Linked DNA regions of Homo sapiens: regions 2, 3, 4, 5 and 6 are each linked to region 1. The links come from fine-mapping of genetic effects on gene expression. A gene starts in region 1. Each other region holds a variant in brackets. All regions are shown on one strand. Distances are between the middles of the regions. Region 1 holds the start of SPTBN1 (spectrin beta, non-erythrocytic 1). Region 2 holds the start of SPTBN1-AS1 (SPTBN1 antisense RNA 1). Region 3 overlaps SPTBN1 (spectrin beta, non-erythrocytic 1). Region 4 overlaps SPTBN1 (spectrin beta, non-erythrocytic 1). Region 5 holds the start of SPTBN1-AS2 (SPTBN1 antisense RNA 2). Region 6 overlaps SPTBN1 (spectrin beta, non-erythrocytic 1).

Region 1 (5,074 bases):
AAACAAACACAAACGCAGTGTTACTGTCATAATCCCATTAATTACGCCCGGACACTTAACTTGGCTACCTCAATCAATAGAAATCTGAATACCAATTTAGCCCCCATCATGACACTCATACACCTAATAATCCTTAATAAAGCATCCAAATAATGCAACTGTACTTGACTTAGAAAAAGCAAACGATGAAAACAAAATACAAGCTAAAGGAATCATTTACTATCCATTAAAAAACATATAAATTCCTTTTAAAACAACCTACTGAATTTTAATATACTTATAAATGTCTTAGTGACATAAAACCCAAAATGCATTAATCATTTCATTTAAAAATGGTTTCCTACAGAAAAAATGCATACTTGGTATTAACCAAAGACAGACGAGGTACTGTAATGTCACAGTTGTGAAGGTCCAATTAATAAACACCAACTTTTCACGTAGAAAAAATTAATGCATAGCTGGGTTGTGGTTACAGATTATGGACGATCCACAGAAAAACGCTGCGACTCCCCACACTGCAACATTGCCTCCGCACACCACTGGGCCCAGTCCTTCCTGCAGCCCCTCCCTATGGCTCAGGTCCCCTGGTCGCAGATCAGATTCCGATCCGCAACCACAGGCCGGCTCCCCTCTGCCTGCACTGGTGATGCAGGGCGCCCCTCCGGCAGAGCGCAGCCCAAGAAGAGGTGCAGGAGGGATCATCCCAAAAGAAAAGACTCTCCCCTGCTCACACCTAGCTGACCTGGTCCTCCTGACGCCACATCCAGCAGAAGCTGCAGGACAAGGTAGCAGCAGCTCCAGGCCTCGGCCAAGGGCAGCCCCGGGCCTGGGTGGGGCCGGGCGGGGGCCGCAGGCGCCGAGCGGCCGTGCCAAGCCCCGCCAGCGAGAACCAAGGAAGCTGCGATACTGCTGCATTGTGCTGCATCACGGCGAGGGCACCGTGAGCCATCCATCTTGCCAAAAAAGCACATCCCCGCCCAAATAAACCCCACCGAATTCAATTTTCTGCTCCGCCGAAGCACCCCCACACGCACCCTGTCCTCACTTACTATCTGGCCTGGCTTTCGATTGGAAAAATAATGGACAGAGGTTTGCGTTCTGATCCCCACCCCCTCCTCATCTGATGGCAGCAGTTGGCACCTTTCCTATCACAAAAACAAAGAGAAGGCGCCCCCTAAAAGAGGGCCGTGGGCGTGGTGTGGGGGGTGATGACGAGCCAGCCCACCTACCCAAAGCAGGCCCGGAGGGTCCCTGCGCTGAGACAAACCTGTTGAAGAGAGGGTGGCAGGAGCTGAAGGGCGGGCGCAGCGGCGGCTCGGCGCCCGGAGGCGGCTCACGCCCAGCCCTGGGAGAGTGGGGACGGCAGAAAGGGCGGGGGGGGGGCGGGCGCACGAGGGTAGCAAGCGCAGGGATGGGGCGGAGGTGGGGGCGCGGGGCCGCCGCCTCCGGCTCAGCTGCAGCGCGGCGCAGCCGGGACCACGCCTGGCCGCATCCCCTGCACCGCTACGCGCAGAGCCCGGCCCTGTCACCGCCGCCCCCGCTCCCCACCCGCGGGGCCACAGAGAGGGCACCTGAAAATAGACCCTCCGGCTGTCCGCTGTCCGCTCCGCACCCACCTCCGCGCCAGGGGCCTCCGCGTCAGGGGCCGCCGCGCCCGGCTGCAGGGAGGCGCCGGCGGAGGCAGGGAGGAGGAATCGCCGCGCCGCGCCGGGGCTGGGGCCGGACGGCAGCGGTGCGCACGGCGGGTCTGCTGCCGCCTCACCGCAGAGCCTGCCGCCCCTCGTCCCGCATCATCCGAGTACCAATGAGCACCCGCGACCCGGGCTCCCCGCGCCGCCCCCGCCCGGGCTTTGCAGCCTCCCTGCCCCCACGCGGCTCCCCGGGCGCAGGGCAGGCGGGCAGCGGCGTCCTCCGGCCCTGGGCCCGCGCCCCTCCTCCCGCCCGTCCGCCGCCGCGGAGCCCACCCGGGAGGCAGCCCCAGTGAGTTGGCATCTCCCTGCCTCGGGCCCCCTACCTACCTCCCGGGGATGGGGTGGGGGCGCCGGGGTCCCGTCCTCCTCCCGCTCCTCGGCGGCCGGGCGGGTGGGCCGGGAGGCGACTCCGCGGGTCTGTCCGCGGCTGGGGCCGGGGCTCACAGGACGGGACCAGTGGGCGCTGCTGCGCAGGGCTGCGCGCTCGCTCCGGGAGGAGAGGCGGCCGAGGGAGGGACTGGAGGAATCCGCAGCCTGCACGGCAACAGCGGCACTGATTCCGGGGGCTGGGCGGGAGCGCGGGGGGCGGGGGGAGGAGGAGAGGAGGGCGCTCGCAGGGAGGGGGCGAGGGGCGGGGAGAGGAGCGCGCGGGGCGGGCGCGCGCGCACACACACACAAGCGCACTCCCGGGATCCCTCCCGCACGCCCTCCGCCCTCCGCACTCCTCCCTCCCCACTCCCGCCCGCTCCCTCTGCTTCGCCCGCCCTCTCCTCCTGCCCGGAGCCCCGCAGCCGCCCAGGGAGCCGAGCCTCGGGCGCGTCCACGTCCTCTCCAGCTGAGGCTCTTCCCGGGTCCAGCCCGGACCTCATCCTCCCAGCGGCGGGGACCGACCAGGCTGGCCGGGGCGGGGTGGGCACTGCTGCTGCCGCTACCCGAGCAGGACAATAGGGGCTTTGTCTCCACAGCCGGAGAGGGCCAATTTCACGTTTAATTTGAGGCTAATTCGATTATCGCCATGGAAAGAGGCGGTCTAATTTTCTACGTGATTTGTGCAGCCTCTTTTCGCCCTTGATGTTGCGTTCGGAATGCTGGGGAGAGAGGGTATTTAGGGAGGTTTTGGAGCGTCACTTGCTTGGTTGGTTTGAGATGCAGTTGGTGATGCCTTATAGGTTCTACCCAACTTGGAGAAGGGCGACGGCGACCTCTTCGTGGGAAACCTTGGGCGCTGGAGGATGGGTGGTGGGGGTCGTTCCTTGTGAGGTTAATGTATTCTTTTGCAAATGCTTTTTCGCCCACCCTTTCGCTTTGGGTAGCTGGGAGCAGACCCTACAAGTGGTTCATCCAACTCCTGCCTCTCAGTGCAGGCTCCGCTCGAACCTGAGGCCAGGTGCCCTGCCCCAGTCACTCCCGAGAGAGGGGTCGTCCGGCCGCGGTGGAGGGCCCCGTGATGGCGTGGGGACTTGCGTTTTCCCCTATGCGCATTCCCTGAAACGGAAACTGGACGTTTCCTCAAATTTTTGTCATGTGCCACTGCCCCTTCCCAGTCACCTGGTCTACCCCGTCAGCCCCTCAGGCTGTGTAGAAATTCCAGAACCGTCACTGTTGTGAAGAAAAGATGGTGGAATCACCAGGACCACGAATGGAAACGCTCTTTAGAAAAGCAGTTTGAAGAAACTGACTTTCTCCTTGTTCTGTAAAGTGCACAGGGCGGCACTGCGGGCATTCAGAGGGAGGAGGGCCCTTCCTGTTTGAAAAAGCCCCAGGGCTTTTTCCCCATACAGACCTGATCACCTGGATTAAAATAAAACAAAAATACACGGCAGCCAAGTAGTTTGTATCATGCTTATATCTCAGATCACTAGAACCTGGCCTGATGGGTTTATATGTTTGTATGTATTTTTAAATGAATATTTTAAAATAAAACTCAGTGAAATCGTCACAGCAAACTGAAGATGATTCTTCCTTTTAGGCCTTCATAGGTTTGAATGTTTGAACCTATGTTTACTTTTGATAGGAAAAAAATTGAGGAAAGCAAATAACATTTTTTCTCAGAAGGTGAATCAACACAACCAGACCGTAAACTCTCTTAAAGGTAGGGTTATTTCTTTCTTCACTCTGTACATATAGCAGGCACTTAGGTACTAAAACAAATTTGTTGAATTGAACACAATCAACTTGTAAGCTGCTGCCCTCATTAGGTAATAAGGGAAATCCACTAGAAAGCAAAGTTGTTTGCCTTTCACTTACTTATTTTTTTACCATGGACCCCAGCACCTCCCCACTCACAATGTTAATGAAATACCAAAGAAAACAGTAACAATATTGGGAAGTGCATCCATTTAAATTAATTCTTCCAGTGTTATTCTGAAATGGTTATTCCTTTATCACAGACAACGGTATTTAAATAAATTTTCATTTGATGAATGATTCACCTCCCTTACCCCATTCCACTCCCACTTACGTTGTTTTTTAATTAAAAAAAAAAAAAAGGCCACACACACCTTAGCAAGGTACTCTAGTAAAGCCCCAGTAATTATTCCAAAAATGTGAAAGACAAGGATTCAGAGTTCTACTGTAAATACCTGCATCACAATTTTGAATTCTTACCCTTAGGTGCAAAAAATCACCCTAGAGAACTCAGTGTACCAACGACCAAAAAGAAGTAACAATTCAAAGAAAAGATAGTACAACTGGAAAGATTATTGGAGAAGACATTTTTATGGAAGGCAAAATCTAAAAAAGATAAAAAGTCTTAGGCAGTGATAACAGCTCAGAAGGATTATTCCCATGTATCTCAGAAGCGGCTTAGTTTCTTCTCATATTAGAATCAGGGTTGATATAAAGGAACCTAGAAGTCTTCAATATCATGTTTGTAACATACTACTCTCCACTTTTAAAACCATGTGATTGCATATGGCTTTATCTCCCATCAAAATACTTTATTACAAAATTTTTACAGATATAAATTGTCATTTTAACTTTCCATTCAGAATGTAGGGGAAGGCTGGGCACGGTGGCTCATGCCTGTAATCCCAGCACTTTGAGAGGCTGAAGTGGGTGGATCACCTGAGGTCAGGAGTTCAAGACCAGCCTGGCCAACATGGCGAAACCCCGTCTCTACTAAAAATACAAAAATTAGCCGGGCATGGTGAGACACGCCTATAGTCCCAGGTACTCTGGAGGCTGGGGCAGGAGAATCACTTGAACCTGGAAGGCGGAGGTTGCAGTGAGCCGAGATCGCACCACTGCATTCCAGCCTGGGTGACAGAGCGAGACTCTGTCTCAAAAAATAAAATAAAATAAAATAAAATAAAAAGGTATTGATAAACAGTATTGTCTACTACAACCTGTTTTGTTTAGAAAAGAGAATGATACTCTAAGTA
Region 2 (5,074 bases), 100 kb before region 1:
ATCACTTGAGCTCATGAGTTCAAGACCAGTTTGGGCAACATGGTGAAACCCTGTCTCTACAAAACACACACACACACACACACACACACACACACACACACAAAGCAGGGTTTGGTGGCAAGTGCCTGTAGTCCCAGCTACTGGGGAGACTGAGGTGGGAGAATCACTTGAGCCTGGGAGGCAGAGGTTGCAGTGAGCCAAGATCATCACACCACTGCACTCCAGCCTGAGCAACAGAAGCAGACCTTGCCTCAAAAAAAAAAAAGAAAAAGAAAAGAAAAGTAAGCATTTCTATAGATGAAATGGAAGAGTAGGCATTTGAGGCAAAATGTAGAAGATAAGCGTGAAACCCAGGGATGGGTTTTATAAAAAGCTGTAGGCCTGCCTACCAGATTTGAATGGAATATATTAGAATAAGAAGTAAGTGGAGTGGGGCCATTTTACGGAGAATCTTTGAAGGCCAAGCTAGACTCTGGAACTTCATTTACACAATGGCACAAGCAACTGTTTCTGAGGGGGAAAGTGGCATGATGAGTGTTCTCTCATGAGGAGTTAAGCTGGCTGATGTGAAGTGGAGAGATGGTTATCATGAACCTGCACCTCTGTTACTACACAGTTCTCTAAATATGGGAGGTTGGGTTTTGCTGTATTTCAACATTCCTCTTTTATTTAACAGAGAAAAAAACATCAAATACAACTTTATACGATACATGAACTGATTCTGAGGAAAGTGATAACTTAATTTTGCAGGTGAAAATCTGAAAAAGAAAAAGAGGAAGGGGTGGGTGTGTGTGTGTTGGGTGTTGGGTGTTGGTGGTGAATGCTACAGCCATCAGAGGTTGAAGGGCTTGTCTTCTTATGCCAGGAGGCTTCGTGTGATAAAGCCATCACTCTTGTATCTCAATGAGGTTTTTTTTTTAATCACACTTATTTACTGACCCACAAATCTCTACAAACTATAAATCTCTACAAACCATAAATCTCTATAAACTATATATTTATGACTATCCTTATTTTTATTTTAAACTATATATAACTATATTTATATATAAATATATAACTCGATTTATATTTATATATAACTATATTTAAACTATAAATTTATAATATCTCTATAAATTTATAAACTATAAATCGCTATAAACCATTTTATCTAAATAGACCAGACTCATTTTAAAATTATATTCTCCTTAGCCAGAACTCCAAATCTCATTCTATGGCACACCTCCTGAAATTTTTAGGACCCAGTGTGGAAAGTAACTTGAAACCAGCCAAAATGCAGAAACAACTCCAGAAAAATCATAGCACTATCAGGCACAGACAATACATAAATAAGTTCATATCAGAGGCATTAAACCCAGTACAGGACTGGCAAGGTAGCTCACATCTGTGATCCCAACACTTTGGGAAGTGAAGGCGGGAGGATCATTTGAGGCCAGGAGTTCAACACCAGCCTGAGCAACATGGTGAGACTCTGTCTCTACAAAAAATTTAAAAATTAGCCAGACATGGTATAGTCCCAGCTACTTGGGAGGCTGAGGTGGGAGGATGGCTTGAGCCAGGACTTCAAGGCTGCTGTTGAGTCGTGATTGTGCCACTGCACTAGAGCCTGGGCAACAGCGTGAGACTCTGTCTCTTAAAACGAAAACAAAAAACCCAATACAGTTTCAGAGGAGCATTTTGCCAATATTCAGAGATTATGTGCTAGGAAAGATTATACTCAGAAGAGTAAAAAAAGGCACCCTTGCAGGAATGTACAAAATTAAATCAGCAGATAGAAATTATATGTTATCAAAAATATGTGATAATCAGAACTACAAATACCAAACAAAACACAAAACCAGGGATGGGAATTAAAGAAAGGTTTTGTGTGTGTGTGTTTAATCAAAATTCTCCTAGGATTGTTTAAAATGCAATCGGTTCATTTGTTCTGAAGGATGCTGACAAATGTGTGTAATTCTCCTGAGGTCCACCATACTTGAAAGTTAATTCACCCTTTCTCAATTCCTCAACATGGGTGGTTTTCTGCTACAGAAATACCAACACTAAACTTGTGCAACTCCTAAACCACAATATTTAAAAATAAGAAAGTCACTGGGGCTAAATTAGGAGACAAGGGTCACACTAAAAAAAATTATTTTTAAAGCTACCACACAAAACACGAAGCTTACCCCTTTCGAAGGGATTTCCTTGAGAAACAGCGTATGAGGTAAAATATCAGGGGCACATGATTTTTTTTAAATTTAAACTTTACGTTGTCCAGAGAGGACAGTTAAGACATTTCCTGTGTGTAGGCTCCACCCTTCTCGGCGAGCAGTTTTAAAACCTTCCTCAGCCCTTTCG[G/C]AATAACAGCCTTTTGTTATGGGTGGGCCTAGGGGTGCACTCCTCCCTCACACCTTCTATTTTCTCCCAGTTTTGCTTTTTTTCTGAGACTTCCAGGCTAGGCTGGCGGTGGAGTGGGCTGACGATCCCGGTGGGTGCTTTCCCCCAGGCGGGATGACACAATGAAGCTGGGAGTCCGGGCCAGGGGAAGAGGAGGAGCACGCAGTGGATTCTCCGACCCGAAAACCGTGAGGCCCCTAACAAACCTAGATAATGAACGCCCCCCCCCACCCCAACTCCTCTATTTACTACTTGCAAGCGCCCCCAGCTTAAGTTTTCAAAAAAGCAAATTTGACTGCCGAAGAGCTCAAGAGAAATGAACCAAAGAGACACAGAACCGTTCCCCAGAGCGAAGGGAGCTTCCTCTGAGCTAACTGCCAGAGGAATGTGGCACAGCCCAGCAAATGTTTAAAATCACGTCCTGTTCTGCCTCGTTTTCCAGAGAAGTGTCATTACTGTCAACTATTTCACAAGACAAATAAACCAATGAATGAAAGACATCCTCCCCCCTCTTCCCAATGAAAAACATTCTAGGGCTGAGCGGCTTCCTTCCTTCCTCCTCCTCACAGGAACCACATTTGCAGCACTGAGGAGGTTAAAATAAGAAACACACAGTCCTCGAATACTACTTTTTTACAGTGCTAGAGCCATTCCCAGCCTACTACTGACTCCAGGGGCTTCCAAACGGAAGGAGTTCTGTTTTCAGTTAGGAACCTTTTTTCATGTATAAGCTCTGAGACACTGCTGGCCAGGGCCTGCTGGCTGGGCAGGGACAGCTGAGGGGTGCAGGGGCCGCAGGGAAAACAGCACACTGGTGCACACACAGGCTTCTGCTCTCCCTAAAAATATGTTCAGTAAAATATTGGACTCATTCAATTGTCTGAGCCTTAAAAAGACTCCAAGAAACCTGTAATTGATCCAACTAATCCAACCCATAGGGTTGAAATGACAATAACCGGCTTTCATTAGAAATTATATAGCCCACTAAATAGATGGGAAGGCTCTTCCCAACACATCAGAAAAATTAAAATTAAGCTTCTGAATAAAAAACTGTAATTTACCAAAGGCTTAGGAACAAAAAGACCCCTCCCTCCTCCCCTTTGCTATTGTTCTACAGGACTGGGTCTGAGCACGGCACTTTACACCTTTAAAGCTTCCCAGAGGTAAGAGGCTGGGGGCTGGGAGCCAGAGGCGACCCGGAATCAAATACCTGCATACTAATAAGTCTATGAGCACTGATCTACTAGGAGGTAAAGTTAGCTAAAAGTAAAGAAAATGTGTGTGCAGCAGTTATCTGACAACCTAGAAAGCCAAAAAGGTGCTGGAGAGACAGGGACTCCAAATGGTAGCTCTTCTGGAGTGGAGTATGAGCAACTGCCTTCCCTAAGTCGTGAATGGGGTGCCCGCAGCCAACCACAGGGTCTGGGGCCGAGCTGTGAAGCCGCCCGTCTTCATTAGGGTCACAAATAAAGCCTCCAAGAACCCCCGTTGGCACCCAGGACAGGCCCGGCCTTTGGGAGGGGGCTTACCTTGCAGCTGCTTGAATCTGCCTTCCAGCTGGTTGTAGTTGTAAGGCACCTGCCCCGTGTACGCCGGCGACAGCGGCCCGGAGATACTAGACGTCCTCTGCAATTCCATTATGCCCGGCGTAACGCCCCGGAGGACTGCGCCCTGGAAATCTCGCTCCAGCCCCCTCCCACTCCCATCCAACACGCAGCAGCCTCCGCAGCGCTCGGCTCCTTAGGCGAGCCCCATTCCGGTCTGCAAGTCCAGCAGGGTGATCTGATGGGAAGTTGGCTGCAAGAGAGTCCACCTTAGCTCCGCGAGGAGTTACCACACAGGCATCTAATTTCTTGCTTTCCCTTCTTCCGTGGCCCTTGCCTGGAAGCTCGAAATAAATTACTGAGGAGGAGGGAGAAGCAGAGAGGAGGCGCAGGTTCTACTTCAGAACTTTTAAATATGGCCAATCCTAAGCATGCCACGGTTGCCGAGCCCGGGAGCTCGCGGGCGCAGCGCGCACACCTCCTCCCAGCTGCCCGCGGCGGCCGCCGGTTTGTAATTTTATCAGGAGCCACTCGCCGTGTGCTGGGCGGTGATGTCACCTGATTAGCATAACAGCATTGTATTAGAAATGCAGGCTATACCACGAGGAGGGGCGCGGGGGAGCCTAGCCGGCCCGCGACCCCCTACCGGTCCCGCACGGTCCGCGGTCGCCCCAGCCGCCCGGCAGCCGCCGACCCCCGGCCGGGCCCTGGACTCGCCGCGGTAGTGCCTTCCCAAACAGAGCTGCTGGAATTACAATCTTTTGTTGAGCCTCATGTAACGGAAAAGTCTCCGATTACTATCACTTGAAAAGGCTAGCGCGCCCACGGGACGGCCTGGAGAGTGAAGAGCCCCAAGGGTCCCGGGCCCGCGCGGCTCATTCACTCTCTAGCGTCTGCTGAGGTAACGCGGCCCGCACCTGGGCGCGCGCGACTGCCCCAGTGCGCTGGCGCCAACCACGCGGCGGCGGCCCGGCGAGCCACCGGGAAGAAGTCAGACAAAGTCACTCTCAGGGCGCTGTGCAGCGCCACAGCCAGGGGAGGTGTAAGTTCGGGCTCAGTGAAGAATCTCGGCTGACTTACGCTGCCATCAGGGGATATGAAGGCGGTGGTTTCCTGGAATAACACGGGCCTATGATAGGAATTCGACG
Region 3 (5,074 bases), 210 kb before region 1:
ATATAGTGTTGCAAGCTACCACTGGGGGAAACTGCGTAAACAGCACTGTATTATTTCTTACAACTGCATGTCAGTATACAAGTATTGCAAAATAAAGAGTTAAAAAAAAAAAAAAACTGTTCTCAGTTATTGGTGGTGGTAGTATTAGTATTGCTATTCTGAGTTTTTATAACATGGAATAAAGCAAATGAATAATTTTAAACTATTCTAGTGGAAAATGAAATATTTCACCATGATCTTCAATAGACAGAAATCTCTATTGAGCTTTGATGGAAAGAAGTCTTTTTTCTTCTTTGTTAAAATATGTTTTTGTGTTATGGACCATGTTTAGAAAGGTCAATTCAAAATTATAAAACATATTCACCAAAAAACGAGGATTTCACCAGAAAACTCAAATATATTTAAGCCCATAAATTCATAATATTTAAAAAATTGTTCATCTTTAGAGGATAGGAACCAACTCATAAATAACGCTGATTATAGGAAAGTAATGCAAATAATGGGAAAGACTCCAGCATTGATCCTGCCTTTTCTACATGGACTGCACCACTACATGAAGGGAAGTATGTCTTTATTTAAGAATTCCGACTGATAAAACAATGTATCCAGGGGAACTAACATAGGATCCCCATACACAAGCAATTCTAACAGTTCCAGGAACTTGGTGAAATGACAATGTGCCCATCACCCAGTCTGATACAGTGTTTCACCTACTCAAGATGCCAGGAATTGTAAGAAGCACAGTCACTGGCACTCTCGGTACACCCAAAAAAACCACAGCCAGTTCCGGAAGTGCCATCAGAAGATGCATCCCAACTTGAGATGCTCAAGTAGGACAAAAAGTGGCCTTGATTCAAGTGACAACGCCATTTCATATCCTAAGCCTTATTTTCACTACTTCTTACTCTTCAGATTTATGGAGGGGCCAGTATTGTCACCCATATTGTATCACTGAAAATCAGGGTAAAATAGCACAGCATTATGGCAACAAGAAATATGCAAAATCCTCAAAAAACATGATAGTGGAAGAATAAAAAAAAAACAAAAAACCCAAAAACTATTTACCCTGCCAGGCTTGAAGCTCATCAGGCTGTGCGGCCTGTAACCTCTGATGGCGAACACGTCTTGACTGGGGTCTTCTGACGCTCCTCTCGCTGCCCATCATCTTCCACATTCAGGCCTCAGTGGATCCTTATCAAATGCACCAAGAGAGAGCAAATACCACCAAACCCTGGCTTCATAACTACAGATCTGCGAACTGTTGAAATTATGTGCACGATGTTCCACATGTACGTATTTATTATGGGACTCCAGGATTGCTGGTATGAACTTATTGCCATCTGCACAGCTTTGTCAAGAGTACAAGACTGTAATTAATCACAATTGTTTCCAAGATACTTTGCCTTAACTAAACATTTTGGTCTGTTGAGAATAGAACAACTTGATTCCAACCCTGAGCATGGCAAGGGCAAAGGACTGTCGTGGGAAGCAGGGGAGAGGATGGTGAGGTCTCAGTTTGCCTAGAGGTAAGAGAGTTAAGAGAAAGCTTTGATGCCACGCAGCTGTGGAGCCCAGGGCTGATGCCACCTTAGGCATGGTCTTTGTGGAATAACTTACTGGACATCCATAATACTAATATCCATTGCTGCTTTATGCAAGTGGCATGGAGTCAACATACCCAGATAACCCAGGAAAAGTATGTCACTTGTAAATAACCCACGACTCTATGCTGAAGTCAGCAAACTATGGCCCATGGGCCAAACCTAACCTCTTGCCTGTTTTTTTTTTTTCTTCTTTTTGGTCTGATCTGTATAAAATAGACTTTACATTTTGAAATCATTAAGAAAATCAAAATATTGTATGGCATGTCAAAGTTATATGAAATTCAAATTTATGTCCTTAAATAGTTTTACTGGAACACAGCCATGCCCAGGCATTCACATACCGTCAATGGCTGCCTTTGTATTACGCAACAGCAGAATTGAGCAACAGAGACAGTTACGGCCTACAAAGCCTAAAATATTTACTATCTCTGTCCCTTTACAGAACAAATTTGCCAACCCCTATCTCAGAGTTCAGGTTTCACAAGTGCTCTGGTAACTTTTTCATAAATAAAAGATAAAGCCTGAATGTATAACTACAAAACAGTCACATTTATTACTGTTTGCTGTAGTTTTCAAAGCTTGTGCACCAGACATGCATAAAAAATGCAAAAGTGAGCCCAGACTGGTTGTAAAATGTTTCTTGTTTGTCATTTCTCCCTTTGCAGTTTCCCTACTGGGCATGCACACGCAGCAGAGGAAGAACAACAACTAGTCACCGTGCTAGATTTAAAAGCATTTAATGACATAGCATATATTTAACAGATAGGGCAAAAGTTGAGAGGTACAGGTCGTACGACTGAGCACCAGGCCTGAGCGACCACCTCCCTGTTCAGGCCCAGCCTCTGGAGTTCATTCCTATCAATGTCATTTTGATTGTGCAGTAAGATGAAAATTTGTCATTACAATAGTTACAGTGACAGAGAAATGCACACTATGTATCAAATAGCAAGGAAATGAAGCAAATTATAACACAGTGTGGCAACGCACGAGCAAGTAACCATTAGAGTAACATTACTTTGTCCAGTAAATGCTTCAGTTCCACCACTTGTACACTTACCAATGATTTAAAGGGTTTATTATACATCTAGTTTTATTATACTTTGTACTAGAATTATCTCAAACGTACAATATAATGTATTTCAGCAAAAAAAAAAAA[T/AT]TGAAATTACAGATTATTTAAAACAGTATCAGTTTTCTATTCCTTCTTGTATACTGACATTCTTAACCGTCATAGCAGTTGATGCAGAAAAGCCGCATGTCGTGTGTTAGTAAGTGATGCCAGATACAAATGGTTTGGTCTGTAGAGTTAATGTGGAGCTGCACTGTGGCTGCAGCAAGATCATAATATGCGATCTGTTTAATAAAGGTTAGCCCCATCTCGGGCACTTCTAAGAGTCAAGAGTCAGGGTAACCACCAGAAGTAAATGGAGAGAGAATGGTGTCAGGATATTGGTACATTTTGCCTCTGGTGAGCACAGGAAATATTGATTAAGCACCGCTGCCTTGCATACCAACAGCACTAGAGGCGGGTTATTTCCAACACAGCCTCACAAAATTGAGGAACAGTTTAAATACTGAGATCTAATCTATATAATTTCATTAAAAAAAAAATCTGGCCTTCCCTCTGCACCTCAAACTTTTGTAACTTGGAGATAAAGTGTTTAGGTGTGTTTCCCCCACCCCCCCCGAAATGCTCTATAAATTAAAAAAAAAAAAAAATCAACCACATTGAGGAACATTAGGCACAGAGAGTAATGTGTTGGTTCTGAGCTTGCATGCTGGAATTTCACTGAAAAGGTAAGAGAAGGGCAGGAGGTGAAGGAAAGGAGTTCATTTCTTTTTGCCAAAAAGGCTGAACCGCTTCTCTTTGTCTTTCTCTTTGTCCTTTTCCCGCTTGCCGGGACTGGACTCGCTGGTGATGGTGACGACGCTGGTGGGGAGGGTCTGCGCGCGGCTGGATGCTGGCGTGCTCTGGGTGCTGGCAGACACCTCGTGTTTATCAGAGGAGATGGCGGAAGAGATAGCCTGGATCCATGTGTTCATTTCCTCCTGGACAGAGGAAGGGACACAGGTGAGACTCAACTAAGAGTAGGCATGAGGGGTTCTGGCTCCAAGGCTTGGGAATGGCGCATCTGGCCAACTGAGGGGTAAGCAGAGTCACTTCTGGGCACTGTCCCCAAATGCACCTCTGCCTTATCAGTACAGGAGAGGGAACCTGGTTCAGCTTCTCATGAGAATTCAGTTCTACTCATCACCCTAGTATGTGGCCCTACAAACTTGTAACAGCTGGAAGACCAGTCTCAATCTGTGAGGTGGTCAGATCCCACCCTAGAAGGTGCTTTTTCACATTTAAAGCATTACAGGTGTTGTTTTTCCATCAATGGACTCTCTCTTTCCTTGAGGTGAGGTACACACCCATTAAACAGCTGGCTGCTGGCGAAGGGTGCAGCGGGGGTCCCATCATGATCCACAACCAGTCCTGGGACCACCTCACTATGCCTCATCCCTGGGAGGGGACAGGCAAAGATTCCATCGACTTTAAGGGATCCTGCCTCGGCAAAGGGACAGTGAGATCATATTCACTGCCTTCTAGAGACAGAACCAAACACCTTCTAGTGCTGGTGACTGGAGCCCAGTGATAGAAACCATCACTGATCATCATTTACATGAAGAACTTTCTGAATAAAGCCCATCATCACACAAACACTTGCAAACTCCTAAGTAGTGGAGAGAAATAACATTTAGAAACTTACATCGTCTTTGGCTTGGAAGAGGTACTCATTGCCATCATTTAGTCTGTAATTTCAAGGAAGAAAGTTAGTCACCACTTAATTACAGAGAAATAAAAATCCCCCAACTCCCATATCCCATGCAGGACAGAAGTAGACCACAGGAGTCACAACAGAAGCGTCAACCTACATATGTCACCACCAAGCCTGGGGACCCGCCCAGGCCCAGCAACAGACCCCTGGAGATCAAGAAGCCATATAATCGCGCCAATGATACACACAGGGAGCCTGTGCTTCAATCCAATGGAAGGATTTTAAAAAGCCCCAAACATAACATTTGGGTTTATTGTGGCAAAAATCACTTGTGGATGCCTGATCACTTACTGGTCTAAACTGAGTTCAGGAGAAAGCTTTTGAACACAATGAGCCCTTTTGAAATTCTGCTACTGAGCTTGTATCCCCTACATTCACATGTTCCAGAGTTTCAGAATAGGCAAACAGAAAATGTCCTTCAACTTTTCTTCTACTGTATGTCTCAGAATTAAGAAGCCCTATTAGTGTGACACTGGGAGGTCCCCAGGCTTGGAAGGGTCACAGGTTCACTCTGTGGCTGCGGAGAGGACGAGGGTACTGTTGTGTAACACAGGGTAGGGGCCGTTCGCTAATATCCCAGCTCTCTGAAGCTGCATGAAGGGAGTACAAAGGGGAAAGCAGCCAAGGAGCCAGGCTGCCGGTGCATTGTCC
Region 4 (5,074 bases), 150 kb before region 1:
AAATCAGAAGAATTTCCAAGTGGTGGTTGTGTGTGGAGGGATGGGGTGAAGGTTAAGTAAAGAAGTATAACTTACTGAAAAGAAGGGGAAAAGGGAAAAAAATGAGTGTAGTGCAATTTAAATACCCCAAATGTTTCTTCCCTCTACCCAGTTTTATCAAAACGTAAAAGAGGCCCTTGGAAGGTGAACATTTTAAATAAAACAAACAAACAAAAAATATATATATAGAGAGAGAGTAGATAATGCATATGTGTATATATACATCTACTATAAAATATACTATTATAGAAGTATATATACGTCTCCTGTAAAAGCACACACACATCTACTATAAAAATATAGTAAATATACACAGTTGACCTTTAGTTGGGCCTGAACTATTCAAATGCACTTATACATGGATATTTTTCAATAAATAAACTGGAAAACTTTTTAGAGATTGGTGACAATTTGAAAAGATTCAGATGAATGGCCTAGCCTAGAAATACCAGAAAAATTAAGAAAAAGGTATGTCATGAATGCATAAAATATATATAGATGTTAGTCTATTTTATAATTTACTACCGCAAAATATATACAAATCTGTCATAAAATTAAAAATTATCAAAACTCATACACACAAACACAGATTGTAATGGCACCATTTGAGCAGTATTAAATCTTGGTATGTACTGTACTACTATAGTAATTTCAGAGCCATCTCTAACTCCTACTGTGATGAGCTCAAGTATTGTTGAGTGCCTACTTAAAATGCCTATGATGCTAATCATCTCCACGTGGTCTCTCTAGTAAATTGGGTATCACAGTAAAAAGCCATCTCTCACAGTTCTTGTGTATTTTTCACAGTGTCTAGTGCAATACTGTAAACCTTGACTAATATCATGAGACCCAAAGTGCCACTAGTGATGCTGGAAGTACTCCCAAGAAGCAGAGAGAAGTCATGACATTACAAGAAAAGGATGAACTGCTTGCTATGTATTGTAGATTGAGGTCTACAGTTGTGGTGGCCCACCATTTGAAGACTAAAAAAAGAAAAGGAAATTTGTGAAGCCATCCCTGAAGCTACACCAGCAGATGCAAAGACCTTGCACTTTTTTGTGAAATATCTTTTTATCTCATATTGAAAATGCAGCGTTTGGCTGGGTGCAGCAGCTCATGCCTGTAATCCCAGCACTTTGGGAGGCTGAGGCGGGCAGACTGCTTGTGCCCAGGAGTTTGAGACCAGCCTGGACAACATGGCAAAAACCCGTCTCTACAAAATAAATAAATAAATAATGAATTAATTAAAAATGCATCTTTTATGTGAGTGCAGGATTGCCATAAGAGAGGCATACCTAAGGACTAATATGATTTGAGAAAAAATGAAGTCATCATATGACAATTTAAAGGCATAGGAAGGTGAAGGATCTAAGGCTGGAGAATGTAACACCAGCAAAGGATGGCATGACTATTAATTTTTAATTGGGTAGCCCTCAGAACCAGGAAAGGTTCACAGAGCTCCCAGTCTGATAATTTCGGAAAGAGGTTTGGCTTAAAAAATGTCAAGGAATTGGGAGAAGCAGCTTTTGCTGACCAAGAGGCAGCAGATGAGTTCCCAGGCACCATTAAGAAAATCAATGAAGGAAAAGTGTATCTTGCCTCAACAAGTTTTTAATGCAGACGAAAGTGCCCTGTTCACAAAAGCCCAGTAAGAGAAAGAGAGGTGAGCACCAGGACTTAAGGCATAAAGGGATAGGCTAACTCTACTGTTCTGTGCAAATGCAGCTGGGTTTATAATCAGGACTGCCCTTATTCATAAGGCTGCTAACCTTTGAGCCTTGAAGGGAAAAAATAAATACCAGCTGCCAGTCTTCTGGTTGTACAAAAAGAAGGCCTGGACAATGACAACCGGTTTTCTGAATTGGTTCTACTGATGTTTTGGTTCCTGAAGTCTCAAAGTACCTTGCCAGTAAGAGGCTGCGTTTTAAAGTTCTTTTGGTATTGGATAATGCCCCCACCCAGAACCCCATGAGTTCAACACTGAAGGCACTGACATGGTCTACTGGCCCCTAAACACAACATCCCTAATTCAGCCTCTAGATCAAGGGGTCATAAGGACTTGTAACGCTCATTACTACACAAAACTCTATGGAAAGATTTGTTGATGCTATGGAATAGAATCCCCAACAGAGAGAACATCAGGAAAATCTGGGAGGACTACACCACTGAAGATGCCATCATTGTTACAGAAAAAGCTGTGAAAGCCATCGAGCCTGAAACAATACATTCCTGCTGAAGAAAATGATGTCCAGATGTTACACAGGACTTCACAGAATTTATGACAGAGCCAATGAAGGAAATTATGAAAGAGGTTGTGGATATGGCAAAAAGGTAGAGGGGTGAAGGTTTTCATGATACGGATCTTGGAGAAATTCAAGAGCTATCAGACACCACATCAGAAGAATTAACGGAAGACGACTTGATGAAAATGAGTGTCTCCAAAAAGATGACAAATGATG[C/A]GGAAGAGGATGTAAAAGCAGTACCAGAAAACAAATTGAATTTGTTCCAAGGGTTCCAATTATTCAAGACTGCTTGTGTTATTTCCATAAAGTTACACCAAGTGTCCCTGCCTCTTCTGCCTCCCCTTCTACCTCCTCCACTTCTACTACACCAAGATGGCAAGACCAATCCCCCCACCTTCCTCCTCAGCCTACTCAACGTGAAGACAAGGATGAAGACATTTATGATGATCCACTTCCACTTAATGAATCTGCAAATATATTTTCTCTTCCTTTTCTAACATTTTCTTTTCCCTAGCTTACTTTAAGACTACAGTAATGTAATACACATAACATGCAAAATATGTTAATTGACTGTTTATATTATTGATAAGACAACAGTAGGCTATTAAAAGTTTTGGGGGAATCAAATGCATAGGAAGATTTTCAGCGGCATGGGGTTGGTGCCCCTAAACCCCCTGCTTTGTTCAAGGATCCACTGTGTGTGTGCATGCGCGCACTCGTGCGCGCATGCACACACACGCACACAAAATGGGTTTCTATTATCTGTTGTACCAACACCAAGCTCATGCCCTCGCCCATCTGGCTCCATCCTTCTCTCCTTCCTATTTCCCATCACTCCCCCTCTAGTAGAGGCTGCACCTGGAGCTGATGTCACCATCTCATAAAGATGCCAGGAGGATGCACACATCCACATGTAGAAGAACGCACTCAGCCTGTGACCCATCATCTTGACTTCCCAATCTCTTCACCTCATCACACCTACCTACCTTCCAAGGCTCAGGCCAAGGCCCATCTTTCCTTCCCGGAGACATTCCCATTTCCAATCATTCTGGTTCTCACAGCTCTTCTTTTCCTCACAACTCTACAACTAACAGGCTGGACCACAGAGCCCAGGAACTCATCATTATAATTTTGCTGTTGTTTCATTTATTGCTCTTATTACTTCCAACTAGACTGTTCGCTTCCTAAGAGCAAGGATGAGGCTTTATACTTCTATATTCTCAGGGGTTTTTGGTCCAGTTCTGAGCACAGAGTTATGTGCACAGTGAACTGAATGCCAGCAGACAGACTGGGCTTGGTGTGTGCTGAGCGGACCTCACAGGGGAAAGGGGGCCAGGCTGCAGCAACCCAGGTACACGCAATTAAGGGCAGCAGCCAGCCCTACCTTAGTATCTTGTCCATTCCCTGCTCTTCCCCTGGGTAGTTAAGATCCTCAGCTATGTGCTGTACGGAAAACGTCTGAAAGGAAGGTTACTTGGGTAACAAGCGGCCATTTTAAGTCTGTCCAGTCTCAGATTATTATTTTTCACTTTCTTTTCTCCTATAAAAAAGGACAAGTAAAAACAGAAGAATGTGGTTGACCTTGAGGAAATAAGATTATGTGCAGAGGCCTACCACAAGTAGAAAAATTTTATTTTCAAATATATTTGTCCCTTGGTATCCACAGGGGATTGATTCCAGGACCCCCAATGATACCAAAATCCATAAATGCTCAAGTCGCTTATATAAAACGGCACAGTATTTGATATAACCTATGCACATCCTCCCATCTACTTTAAAAATTAATTTATTAATTTTTTTTTTGAGACAGAGTCTCGCTCTGTCGCCCAGGCTGGAGTGCAATGGCACGATCTCACCGCAATCTCTGCCTCCTGGGTTCAAGAGATTCTCCTGCCTCAGCCTCCCAAGTAGCGGGGTTATAGGCACCAGTCACCACGCCTGGCTAATTTTTGTATTTTTAGTAGAGATGGCGTTTCACCATGTTGGCCAAGCTGGTCTTGAACTCCTGATCTCAAATGATCCATCCACCTTGGCCTCCCAAAGTGCTGGGATTACAGGCGTGAGCCAGCCCCCCGGCCTCCCATATATTTTAAATCATGGCTATATTATTTGTAACTAATACAATATAAATGGTATGTAAATAGTTGTTATACTGTATTTTTAAAAAATTGTATCACTGTTTATTTCTGTATTGTTATTTTTCATTGTTCTTCCCCTTGAATATTTTCTACCTGCAGTCAGTTAAATCTGCAGATGCAGAACCAGACCATAATAGCAATGGAAAAAGAAATGTCTTTAAACATTAAGCTTTTCACATTAATGTGATATCCTCCTTACCCCAAAAAAAGAAAGAGGTGGATTTTGCCTTTAGAAACTTCAAAATGATTTTAATTCGGTTATGTGGGAAATGCTAGAATTTGCTATTTGTGCAATGCCAGGTTGCATCAAAATCAAGCAATCTAACGAGGTAGGAAAAAATAGATATAAAATACGGGTGGGCTTAATCTAAAATTCTGTAACTCTGATTCTGCAAGTGCTGTTTGAGGTAACACTGGTGCTCTCTCTCCACGGTACACCCGTCAGCCTCCTAAAGCTGGCCCAGACACCATTACGCTCCTATCCGAGAAAGGGATGCCTGTGTAATCGGTGCCGCCCTAGAAGAGGTGGGTGGAGCAGCTCTCCCCGCCAGCAGTCACAGAACTGCATATGGCTCTCATGTGTGCTCTTTAAGTTTTTCCTTTTGTCTCCTGGATCAGCTATCATTTCTCATGCTGAAACGTGACTATTCACAG
Region 5 (5,074 bases), 220 kb before region 1:
GAACCTTCCTTCTGCAGAATATGAGGTCTTTTCCCAGCTGCACTTGCAGCAAGGGCACAGATCCATGGCCAGTATCTGTCAATTGTACACCTGCATGATTTTGAATTAGAGGCTGGTCATGTGCAGAGGGGAGCCTGGCAGAATCTGTTCTGTGAGGGCAGTGGCAGGGACAGCTGTCACTGCAGCAGCGTGTTGCTGTCAAAGACAGCAATTCCCACAGCAGGGTTTGCGCACAGTATGGTGTCATGGTGGGCACCTGGCAGTGTCAGAGTCCAGTGACGAGTTCCAGGAGCCTGCCCTAGGCTGGACTTTGGACATTTTTCCTGGCTGTATAAGCCCTAAGCCTGGTGCCCTTGTCCTCCTGGAGATTCTGGGAGCCTTAATAAGTTCCTTTTCTGCTAAATTAGCCAGAGTTGGTTTTTGTGGCTTGTGATTCAGAACCCTCAGTAAATCAGATATGAATGAACAATTCAATTCACTCAAAAAGAAAGTGGTGACACATCCCTGTAGTCCCAGCTCTCAGGAGGATCGATTGAGCCTGGGAGGTCGAGGCTGCAGTGAGCCGTGATCATGCCACTATACCCCAGGTTGGGTGACAGATAAGACCCCATCTCAACAAAAAGGAAAAAAAAAAGCAAGAAGAAAGAAGAAAAAGAAAGAAAGGAAGGAAGGAAGGAAGAAAGGAAGGAAGGAAAGAAAGAAAGAAAGAAAGAAAGAAAGAAAGAAAGAAAGAAAGAAAGAAAGAAAGAAAGAGAAAAAAGAAAGATGACAAAAACAGGAGAAAAAGTTGACCCTAGCTAGCAGTCAAAGAAACTCACAGCTTGAGGTGCCATATGATAGTTACTAAAAACAAAAACAATTGTTTCTGTAGCACAACAACGAGAACAGTTCCTCAGATAATGTCATTTCATTCAACTTTTTTTTTTTTTTTTTAATGATGAGAAAAAAATTGATTCTCTGCCAGGGCCACTGTCTGTGTGGTTTGCATGCTCTCCCCACGTCCACAGGGGTTTTGCTCTGGATGCTCTGGTTTTCTCCCACCCCTCAAAGAGGTGCATGTTCAGTTCACCGGCATGTCTACATGGTCCTGGTGTGAGTGTGGGGTGTGTGTGAGTGTGCCCTGCGATGTGACAGTGTCCTGTTCAGGGCTGGTTCTTACTTTAAGCCCTGAGCTGCTGGAATGAGCTACAGCAACCGGAGACTGGAGACTCCGGCAACCTAGAGAACTGTTATTATTGAGTAAGTTATCTTACTTGCTTTTATTTATCTTTCTTAAATGTATGTATAGCTCATATTTATTTCAGTGGTTAATATCAGAAGTGTTTTTTTTTTTTGAGACGGAGTCTCACTCTGTTGCCCAGGCTGGAGTGCAGTGGTGCAATCTTGGCTCACTGCAACCTCTGCCTCCCAGGTTCTAGTGTTTCTCCTGCTTCAGCCTCCTGAGTAGCTGGGACTACAGGCATGCGCCACCATGCCCGGCTAATTTTTGTATTTTTAGTAGAGACGGGGTTTCACCATGTTGGTCAGGCTGGTCTTGAACTCCTGACCTTATGATCCACTCGCCTCGGCCTCCCAAAGTGCTGGGATAACAGTCATGAGCCACCGCGCCCGGCCTTTGGTTTTTATTTAGAATTTTGATGTGTTTGTGACTAGAAATAAACCATAGGAATATTAATTTGCTTGTGGTAAAATTGGTGTTACTTACTTTCAGATTGCAAGAACATATTGACAACCTTAAGTGAGGACTGACTGTACCTTTGTTTATAGCTAGTAACTAAATGGATACACTGTTTGGAAAGTAATTTGGAAAGGAGTAATAGGAATATTTAGCAAAAATCTGTAAACGTGTCCTTAGCTTCTGACCTGGCAATTGCCAAGAAGCTTGGGAGGGTGTTTGGTAAGATAAAAATTATTTGTGTGCTTGTGTTTGAAAATTATTGATGTGGGCTTACAGTGTGTTAAACTAGGGGTGATAAAATTTGCATTAGGACCCCAGAAGCTTTTAGAGAGCAAAGAGATTAGAACCTATATTCAGTTTCCTGAAATGTAAAGTGACTGAAGCTGTCAGAGCGGCTGAGATCAAGGCTCTCTCTGAGGCTGGGCAGGAGAATGACTCCCCTGGGAGAACATTTCCACAAGGGGAAAGTGGTTAGTAGATGCGTACCCTGCACCAAGGCACGTGATTAAAGGGGAATATGGTCTGTGCAGTAGCCATACCAGGGGGCAGTTTATGCCCCCAGAAAACTGCTCTCAAAAAGAACCAAGAGCTGTAATTTTGGGAACACAAGCCTCTTTGGTGGAGAATGGTGTTATTGCTAAATGCTCAGCATCTGGGGAGCATTTTAATGCCTGATGCTGCATCAACTTGTGGAAAACTACCAATAGTCCTTGAAATAAGCATCACAAAGTCTTGTAGAAACA[C/T]AGCAAAATGTTTATGATGCATATGTAAGTAAAAATTGTATGCAGAATAGGTACTTGTGATGTTTAACTATGTAGGATTTGAGGCATGTGGGCCAGTGGGTTGTTAGAGTTAAAAAAAAAAGGAAGAATGCTTTTTTTTTTTTTGAGACAGAGTCTCTCTCTGTTGCCCAGGCAGGAGTACATGGGCATGATCTCAGCTCACTGCAACCTCCACCTCCCAAGTTCAAGTGATTCTCGTGCCTCAGCCACCCAAGTAGCTGGTATTACAGGCGTGCACCACCAGGCCTAGCTAATTTTTTTTTTAAGTAGAGATGGTGTTGTGCCATTTTGGCCAGGCTGGTCTTGAACTGCTGACCTCAAGTGGTCTGTCCGCCTTGGCCTCCCAAACTGTTGGGATTACAGGTGTGAGCTACCACACCTGGCCCAAGAATGCTTTTATCATACTGTCTTTCCTGTTCAAAATATTGCATCTCTTACCAACATGTTTCACTAAAAAAACATGAGGTCACCAAATGCCTATTTAAGGAACTGAATTTTTATTTTTAAAAATAAAGTCCCCCAAGTGATGCTACTCATCTGTTTCTTTGGGGAATCCCAGATGCCTGAGTTAATGGTCAGAACATCATTTGGCTGGGAAACAATCCATATAGGTGCAACTGTCCCTGGGTGCGTGGCCCCGTGATTGGGTGCAGCTCCCTCTCAGTCAGTTCTCACTGTCTTATCAAGACTCCATCTCTGAAATCTTGAAATGCATCTTGAAATGCAAGGATCCTTAATCCATTTATTCCTTTGACAAACAGAAAATGAGCCCTTCTGTCTGTTCACGCTTCCCCTCTTTCCTCTTCTGAGAAATGGAGGTCTAATTGCTGGCATGGGAAAGAGCCTTGTTTTAACCGTCAGCTCCGCCCTAGTGGATGGAAGACAGGGTTAGCATGCCCTGTTTTTCATACAGCACCTGGGCTTGTAAAATGGAACTAAAGAAGGAAATGATGACCAGGCATCCAGAAGTCAGCTCCTGTCTTTCTATGCTCTGCTAGAAAAGAGAGGTTGTGAGCTGAGGGACATCAGGAGAGCAGGAAGACCTGCAGGAAGAGCCGGCTGGGCACCCAAACATGGCTGTACCTCAGAAGATGCCTGTGCAGTTCAGAACTTGGAGGAGATGGGGCCGCAGGTGCTGAGGAGGCAGCAAGAGTCAGATGCAGTGACACAGGGGAGGTCAGACATCACAGGAAAGAGCAATGATGGAAGTCAGGGAACGAAGGGGCCCTGTGGCCAGTTCAGGGGGCTAGAGTGAAAATCTGACCTATCTCAGCTGCAGCCCATCAGTTCCTGTAGCTTGTCTTCACATCCTTTGGCTAGAAAGCAGATGAAAGAAAACCTGTCCACAGAGGCTGTGGGCTGAGCCTCTCCTCCCCACTTTTTAAACACCAGACACCGACATAGGCTTTATGCTGAGCTGTGATTTATCTTGCCAACCTTCTGAGGCTACAGAGTACCCAGCTGTTTGGAGGGTCCTTCTGCCCTACCTTTCCTCCTTCCTTACTTCTTTCCTTCCATCTTTTCTTCCTTCCAAATATTTATTGTGTCCCCACCACACACTCTTTATCTGAACTTAAATTTGATCCGAAAAGGACTTCAGCATGTATTGACAGTTGAAATCCAGGCAGCTACAGATTTGTAAGGCCAGTGAATCAGGCATCAGCTATCCTCTAATTACATTGCACATGTATTTGAGAGCAAAGCTTGCACTTGCATAGCTAAACTCTAGAGTCACATGGATGCTCAAGGAGTCAGTGAAGAGCTGTGGCTTCAAGAACCCAGCCTTGCATGGCTGTTGAGTGGACATGACACTGGGTATCCAGTCCTTTCTCTGAAAGCCCACGACTGGGGCAACAGCTTACACACATGAGATGCCCTCTCAGCTGGCACTGGTTCCATGACCATCATTCCTCAGCCCACAGAGAAGTGCAGGAAAAGAATCTAGGTGGGGGACAGTTAGTGTAGTCTGAGAGTGTGGCCTCTGGAGAGATGTGTCAGAATTCAAATATCCAGCTGCGATTTGTACAAGTACTTAACTCTTTAAGCCTCTGTTTTCTTCTTTGTACAATGAAGACATTGCCTGGTAGAATTGCTGCAAGGATTTGATGAGAACGCAACTTGAAAACTTAGCACACTGCCTGGACAACCTTATAGTTGGTTACCTATTAATATTAGCAAGATGAAATCATTCCATTTGGAGGAAAACAAATGGTGGAAACAAAACCAGTGGTTCAGAGTCCCATACCTAAATCACTGACTGATTTTTTTCAATCAGTTGTCCTGACAGGTTCAGATCCAGCGTGAGCTCCTGGCTTCTCTCCCTTTTCCTATGCAGTGTGTTCACACTCACACATCCACTTGTTACACAGCGCAGGATGCCACTGAGATCCTGAACACACACCTCCTTCTCAGCTCAAGATATCAAGGCAGCTGAATGGAGATGAGGCAGGGGGAAGGTCAGTCCTGGGGTCAGCCAGACCGTGTTAAAGCTTCAGAGCACTGTGGTCTTGGTTCTACCAGCTCTGGCTTAGCTCAGTCTTCTTTTCTCTGGGCTGACAGTTCAGGTTGTGGGTCTAACAACACCTCACTAATAAGTCTCTACCTCACAGGGTCA
Region 6 (5,074 bases), 190 kb before region 1:
TGGTGAGGTGCAGACTATCAGACTCGAGGGACGAGATTCCCACCCTGGATGTTCCGAGACCCTTCTTTGGCTTCCTCATCTCTAAGTCTAATGAGGTGAAGGGATTTAATGAAAAAATGAGAGAGCAACTCCACTGTCTCTCAAGTGTCTTGCAGTTCTAAAAGTAAATGATTTTAGAGGTGCAGAGGAAAGACCTATGTTGTCAAGGTGTTTTCTAATTCTATCTCTAGATATCCCATGTTTCCCTAAACTTTTGTTATATAATAATAATTAGAAAACATTTCTAGAGATCTCACTATGTCATATGTTTTGCACCTCAATCCTTAAACTATTAGGGAACCAAAGCTTAGAGAGGTAAATTAAACTTGCCATCATAGTGACAGGAATTAAGAATTAAGGGGAAGTGAGAGAGAACAACTATCAAGGTGGTCCCTTCATAGAACAAATCCCAAAGTATACCAAAGCTATTTAGAGGCTGAGGCACTAGACTGGGTCAGCCCAAGGCCATATCTGGGTGGCCTGTTTCTGTAAATAAAGATTTATTGGAACACAGCTACGCTCATTCATCTTCTCACTGTCTATGGCTGCTTTATTCTACAATGACAGAGGGCAGAGCTGCAACAGAGTATGTATCTCATAAAGCGAAAAACACTATTTGGCCTTTAACAGAAAAAGCTGAGATAACTTAGATACTCAATATACTCTTAACAACAAGAACCCTTGACATAATCAGGGATAACATCTTTAATAAAATTGGCTTCTTCTCTAGGGCCATGAAACTTAGAAGAAAAAAAATACAATTTGTTTTTCAACTAAAAGGCATAAGACTAAACAAGAAACTGTGCAGAGATCAGAAAGGAAACTAGAGAGTGATTACACTAGATTCTGTTATATTGTTACTACTTTGTCAAACATCTTTTAAACAAAGTCTTAGTGCCAGTCATTTCATACTGGGGACGAGGCATGATAAAATGTCAGAATCCTGTTTTTTTCTTTTTCCAGACATACAACTTAGAACCTGGTTGATGAAAAATAGTAAAATATTATTTTGGAAATTGTTCTGGATGGATATGCTAACATAATAAAAACACTTGCTGAGGCCTATAACTTGCAAACATCTGTGTATGCATCTGGTTTATTTATTTTAATCATGGGGGCACTCATCTAATGTTCACAAATGTGGCAAACGTAGACCTTTATGGACTGATAAGTTCTCCCAAATGGAGCACTATTACAAAGTGGGTACATGTATGTGCTTAATTGGGGCAATTCTTTTGAAGAGCCAAGGAACAGGGAGATACTTACAGATGCCCAAAGATGTTCTATGGAGAAAAAGCCTCCCCAGCACCCCTGGGTGGCTGCCATACCCACCTGTGTGCCCAGAGCCTGGATGTCATGCTCAAATGTAGTGTGCATTCTCTGTAAGGTCTCCACTGTGTTCTGATCTCTCCCAAGCTCCTCAGGGAGTTTCTTGTGTTTGTCCTGTATACGCCCAAAGATCTCCTTGGCATCGTGGTAAAACTTGTGCAGTTCATAGGAAGCGGCAAGAATCTGTGTTCTTGTGTCAATGAGCTCCAGGAGGTCGGCCCAGGCTTCATTGAGGCCATCCTTCCATTCAGCGATGGTGGCGGCATCTGAATGTCCAGAGTTGATGAGCTCATCTGCCAGGTGATTGACCGTGTCCACGCGCTCCTGCCCAATGTTCCCGGTGTCTCGGGCAAACTCCCGGAATCGTTCTTGTAACATCTGAAACGGGGATGGGTAAGGAAATCAGAGAGCCCACTGTGAACTCTGTATTTCTTGATCACATGAATACCCTTTGGAAAGAAACTGCCTCTAAGCAAGATGTAGCCAATAATACTCATGACTTCAGAACAATAGATCTTAGCTCGAGAACCTCTTAGCAACTGGGTTTCCTTTCTTGCTCACTGCAGCAGAGTGAGGCACTACCTCCACCTCCTTTTACTACCGGAGGAAGGGGTGCACAGAGAGGTTAGCCAACCTAAATGCGAGTCACCAGCTTATAAAAGAAACACCACCTTAAAACTAAACCCCAAGACCTCTGATTGGAGTCCAGGGCATTTTATCTGCTCACAGACAAGGAATGCAAATGGCCTTCCACACCATCGCTTACTGCACAA[C/T]CAACTCATGCACTGCCTCAAGTACTTGCCGTGACATGCTCATAGTCCTGTCCCAGTTCATGGGACCCTGCGACCACCTCCCTCTCAGCGATCCACTGCTCCAGGTCGTCCACCTCCCGGTTGAGCTGGAATAACCTGTGTCTCTCATCCAGCTTGCCTCTTCTCTCTTCAGCAAGGTCTTTCAGACCAGCGTACAGTTTATCCACTTTGGACTGCCGCATGCTAATGCGCTCACTGAAAAAGAAAAGGAGCAATGGGGAGAAAAAGGATCTTAAATGTCAAGTTTCTTCAGGGGAAAAACAAATGAGGTGGAGATAATGGGAGAGCATATTACATCATATTTCTCAAAGGAAACTCTGGTTAACCCACTTAGCATGAAAAATAAAATTCTGAAATTGGCCACAATTTGAAGTCGTGAAGAGCCAATATGTAAACAAAAGAGCCAATATGTAAACTACATTCACCTATCCCTACTATTACACTAGGGATGGGTAGTGCCTCATTCTGCTGCAGTGAATAGTGGGGGCAGGAGAATTTAGCGGGGAAAGGGGAAAATTCTCTCTGCACCTCTGGCTCTGCAAATCAGGATTTCCTTTGATGTTAAAAGTTAATGCAAAATCTTCCCAGTCAGGAAGGTGACAAAAGAGAAAATAAGTTAATGCAAAATCCAGAGTGGTCTTGCATTCTCTGGTACCATGCTGCCAGAGGGACAAATGACACAGCCAGTGTGGCACGCAAGGCCCTCTACCTTCTCTGGGCAGAGTGCCCATCCTTGTTAGGAGGGCTGGACCGGCTGCTCCATCTCATGATTCCCAGGTGCGCAGTCAGGAGACTGAATCCCCCTCCCTCCAACTTCTCCCCAGAGTGATGGTCTACAAACCAGAATATCAGAGACAAAGGACATGTTGGTGCCTATCCCTGGAGACTAGGAAGGCCACTTTCCTGGGAATCCTGATCATGAACATCTTAAGAACCTCCTACACCAACAGAGCCACTGACCTCATCTCCCCTAACCTGCCCTGGTTAAATGCACAAGGCCAATTCCTTTCCAAGTCATAAAAGGCATTTACACAAAAATCCTAAAATGACTGCTTTGGAAGTTAATACAGGGGCCTGATGAGTACCACACACTCACCTCTTCTTTTTCCTCGAAGGTGTTCTAATCACTTGATATCGAAGAGTTAGGAGGTGTTATCACTTTGTTCTTCCTGGGAGCCCCTTCATTTTACAGGTCTATGCATTCTTGTCTAATGCTCCTCTTAAAACTAGTAATTACTTTACTAAACTGGATGACTTTTTCAACCCAAGTGTAAGTGCTATGACTATCTGTATCCACCATGCAAGTCAACCTGTACTTCTGATCATTTTTATTTTTTTGAGACAAGGTCTCACTCTGTCACCCAGGCTGGAGTGCAGCAGTGTGAACATGGTTCACTGTAGACTCAAACTCCTGGACTCAAACCATCCTCCCAACCTCAGCCTCTTGAATAGCTGAGTAGTACAGACGTGTGCCACCACACCCAGCTGATTTTTTGTATTTTTTGTAGAGATGAGGTTTCGCCACATTGCCGAGATTGGTCTTTGGCCCCCTGGGCTCAAGCAATCCTCCCACCTTGGCTTGGTAAAGTGCTGGGATTACAAGTGTAAGCCACTTTACGTTGACTGCCCAGCCTAGTCAACCTGTACTTTTGACTCACGACACCAATATTCTTTCAGGAGAGCCTTGGCCAACGGGAGATATTTAACCCACAAGAGCAATTTCCTAATATAACAGTTCACCCATCCTAATCATGATAGGATGTTTTAAATGATGGGTCTGTTTTAAAAATGCTTCTCAAAGATTTGCCTTACCAGCAAGTCATGATGAATGCTGACATTTTCTTTTGGTGGGGGTTAGCAAGAGACCCTAACTGAGAGGAATCGAGAGCCGGGTCTCACACTCATGAAGCAGCGCTCACCTTTCAGGATGGCTGTCGGCCACCAGGGCCCGGCTGGTCTTGGAGAGCTGATGCACGGTCTCTGCATAGTCCTCCACAGCTTGTTCTAAGATCTGGTGCTTCTTCAACATGGAGACAGCACTCTGCTCATCCTGCAAAGACAGGAGAACATCACAACCATAGCGGTCCCCTCTGGCCCTACCCCTTAAGGAGTGACAGACCAGCTGCTCAGCAGGGTAGGAGGAAGGATCAGTAGAAAGAAAAACTCCAGAGGTGCAGTACGGACAGTGGAACACAGAAGTGTTCCAAGAGCTTCCATATGGACTGGACCACAGAAGCCTGTGCAGAAGATAAACACAAGGAGAACGCAGAATGAGCAGGGCCCCTCTCAGAGAAAAGCTTGGGCAGACCAAGTGTGCCTGGTTCGCTGGAATTCCTCAAGGTCCCTCAAGTATGTAAATGGCAGCATTCCTGGAACCTTGCAATACTTTCAAATTGTCTCCAAGCCATCCTGTATTTTGTAAAGTTTAGGGAACCTATAAATAGACAGCAGGAAGGACTCTGGCATATTTCAAAGATGAAAGGATGAACCTGTTCTTAATGGCACACTAGGATTCAGATAAGAAAATGCTGCACCAAAGGGAAACCAGCAGCTGGATTTCAGACACCTTCATGCACATGGTGTCCCCTTAACACTCAAAGGCTACAAGGGAAGTTTTTATACAGACAGAGCCGCCAGCAGAAAGTGTGCCCAGGGTTTGAATCTGAGGCTCTCCTGGGACAGGGATGCTTCCCGCCTCCTCTCACCTTGGCCTTCTCCTCTGACATCATGTACAGCTCCTGCTCGCTCATCCAGGCTTCGGCCTCAGCAGCGTCAAAGTAGTACTGCTGGGCCCTGTGCGCCTCCTCCAGCCGCCTGTGGCGTTTCTCTGTCTCCTCAATGAGGAGACCCCACAGCTGCTTCAGGTCGGCAAGCCTCTGTCTGATGGCCTCAGC

Evidence for each region. PIP is the estimated chance that this variant, and not a neighbour inherited with it, causes the effect.
Region 2: its variant is fine-mapped to the expression of SPTBN1 in whole blood (TOPMed, PIP above 0.99). The same link has a PIP of 0.9 or more in blood mononuclear cells, monocytes, neutrophils and non-classical monocytes.
Region 3: its variant is fine-mapped to the expression of SPTBN1 in whole blood (INTERVAL, PIP above 0.99).
Region 4: its variant is fine-mapped to the expression of SPTBN1 in whole blood (INTERVAL, PIP above 0.99).
Region 5: its variant is fine-mapped to the expression of SPTBN1 in whole blood (TOPMed, PIP above 0.99).
Region 6: its variant is fine-mapped to the expression of SPTBN1 in whole blood (TOPMed, PIP above 0.99).

The regions. Positions count from the first base shown.
Region 1 is chr2:54,453,463-54,458,536 of GRCh38, reverse strand. It overlaps SPTBN1 (spectrin beta, non-erythrocytic 1), which reads right to left and starts at 2,210. Exons shown (of 36, transcript NM_003128.3): 1 at 2,019-2,210.
Region 2 is chr2:54,557,725-54,562,798 of GRCh38, reverse strand. The region is part of intron 2 of SPTBN1 (spectrin beta, non-erythrocytic 1); the gene reads right to left. It overlaps SPTBN1-AS1 (SPTBN1 antisense RNA 1), which reads left to right and starts at 4,094. Exons shown (of 4, transcript NR_185881.1): 1 at 4,094-5,074. RefSeq lists an enhancer at 2,386-2,555 and a silencer at 4,557-4,696. The variant G/C (reference allele first, on the strand shown) is at 2,344.
Region 3 is chr2:54,666,927-54,672,000 of GRCh38, reverse strand. SPTBN1 (spectrin beta, non-erythrocytic 1) reads right to left here. Exons shown (of 36, transcript NM_003128.3): 35 at 4,355-4,397; 36 at 555-3,650. The coding sequence ends at 3,432. All of the region lies in intron 1 of SPTBN1-AS2 (SPTBN1 antisense RNA 2), which reads left to right. Among named protein-coding and RNA genes, the nearest start is that of SPTBN1-AS2, 11 kb to the left of the region's middle. The variant T/AT (reference allele first, on the strand shown) is at 2,761.
Region 4 is chr2:54,606,628-54,611,701 of GRCh38, reverse strand. The region is part of intron 3 of SPTBN1 (spectrin beta, non-erythrocytic 1); the gene reads right to left. Among named protein-coding and RNA genes, the nearest start is that of SPTBN1-AS1, 50 kb to the right of the region's middle. The variant C/A (reference allele first, on the strand shown) is at 2,499.
Region 5 is chr2:54,675,989-54,681,062 of GRCh38, reverse strand. It overlaps SPTBN1-AS2 (SPTBN1 antisense RNA 2), which reads left to right and starts at 1,018. Exons shown (of 3, transcript NR_186176.1): 1 at 1,018-1,239. The region is part of intron 1 of LOC105374653 (a long non-coding RNA gene); the gene reads right to left. The variant C/T (reference allele first, on the strand shown) is at 2,422.
Region 6 is chr2:54,646,287-54,651,360 of GRCh38, reverse strand. It overlaps SPTBN1 (spectrin beta, non-erythrocytic 1), which reads right to left. Exons shown (of 36, transcript NM_003128.3): 23 at 4,886-5,074; 24 at 4,100-4,230; 25 at 2,171-2,375; 26 at 1,372-1,746. Among named protein-coding and RNA genes, the nearest start is that of SPTBN1-AS2, 31 kb to the left of the region's middle. The variant C/T (reference allele first, on the strand shown) is at 2,142.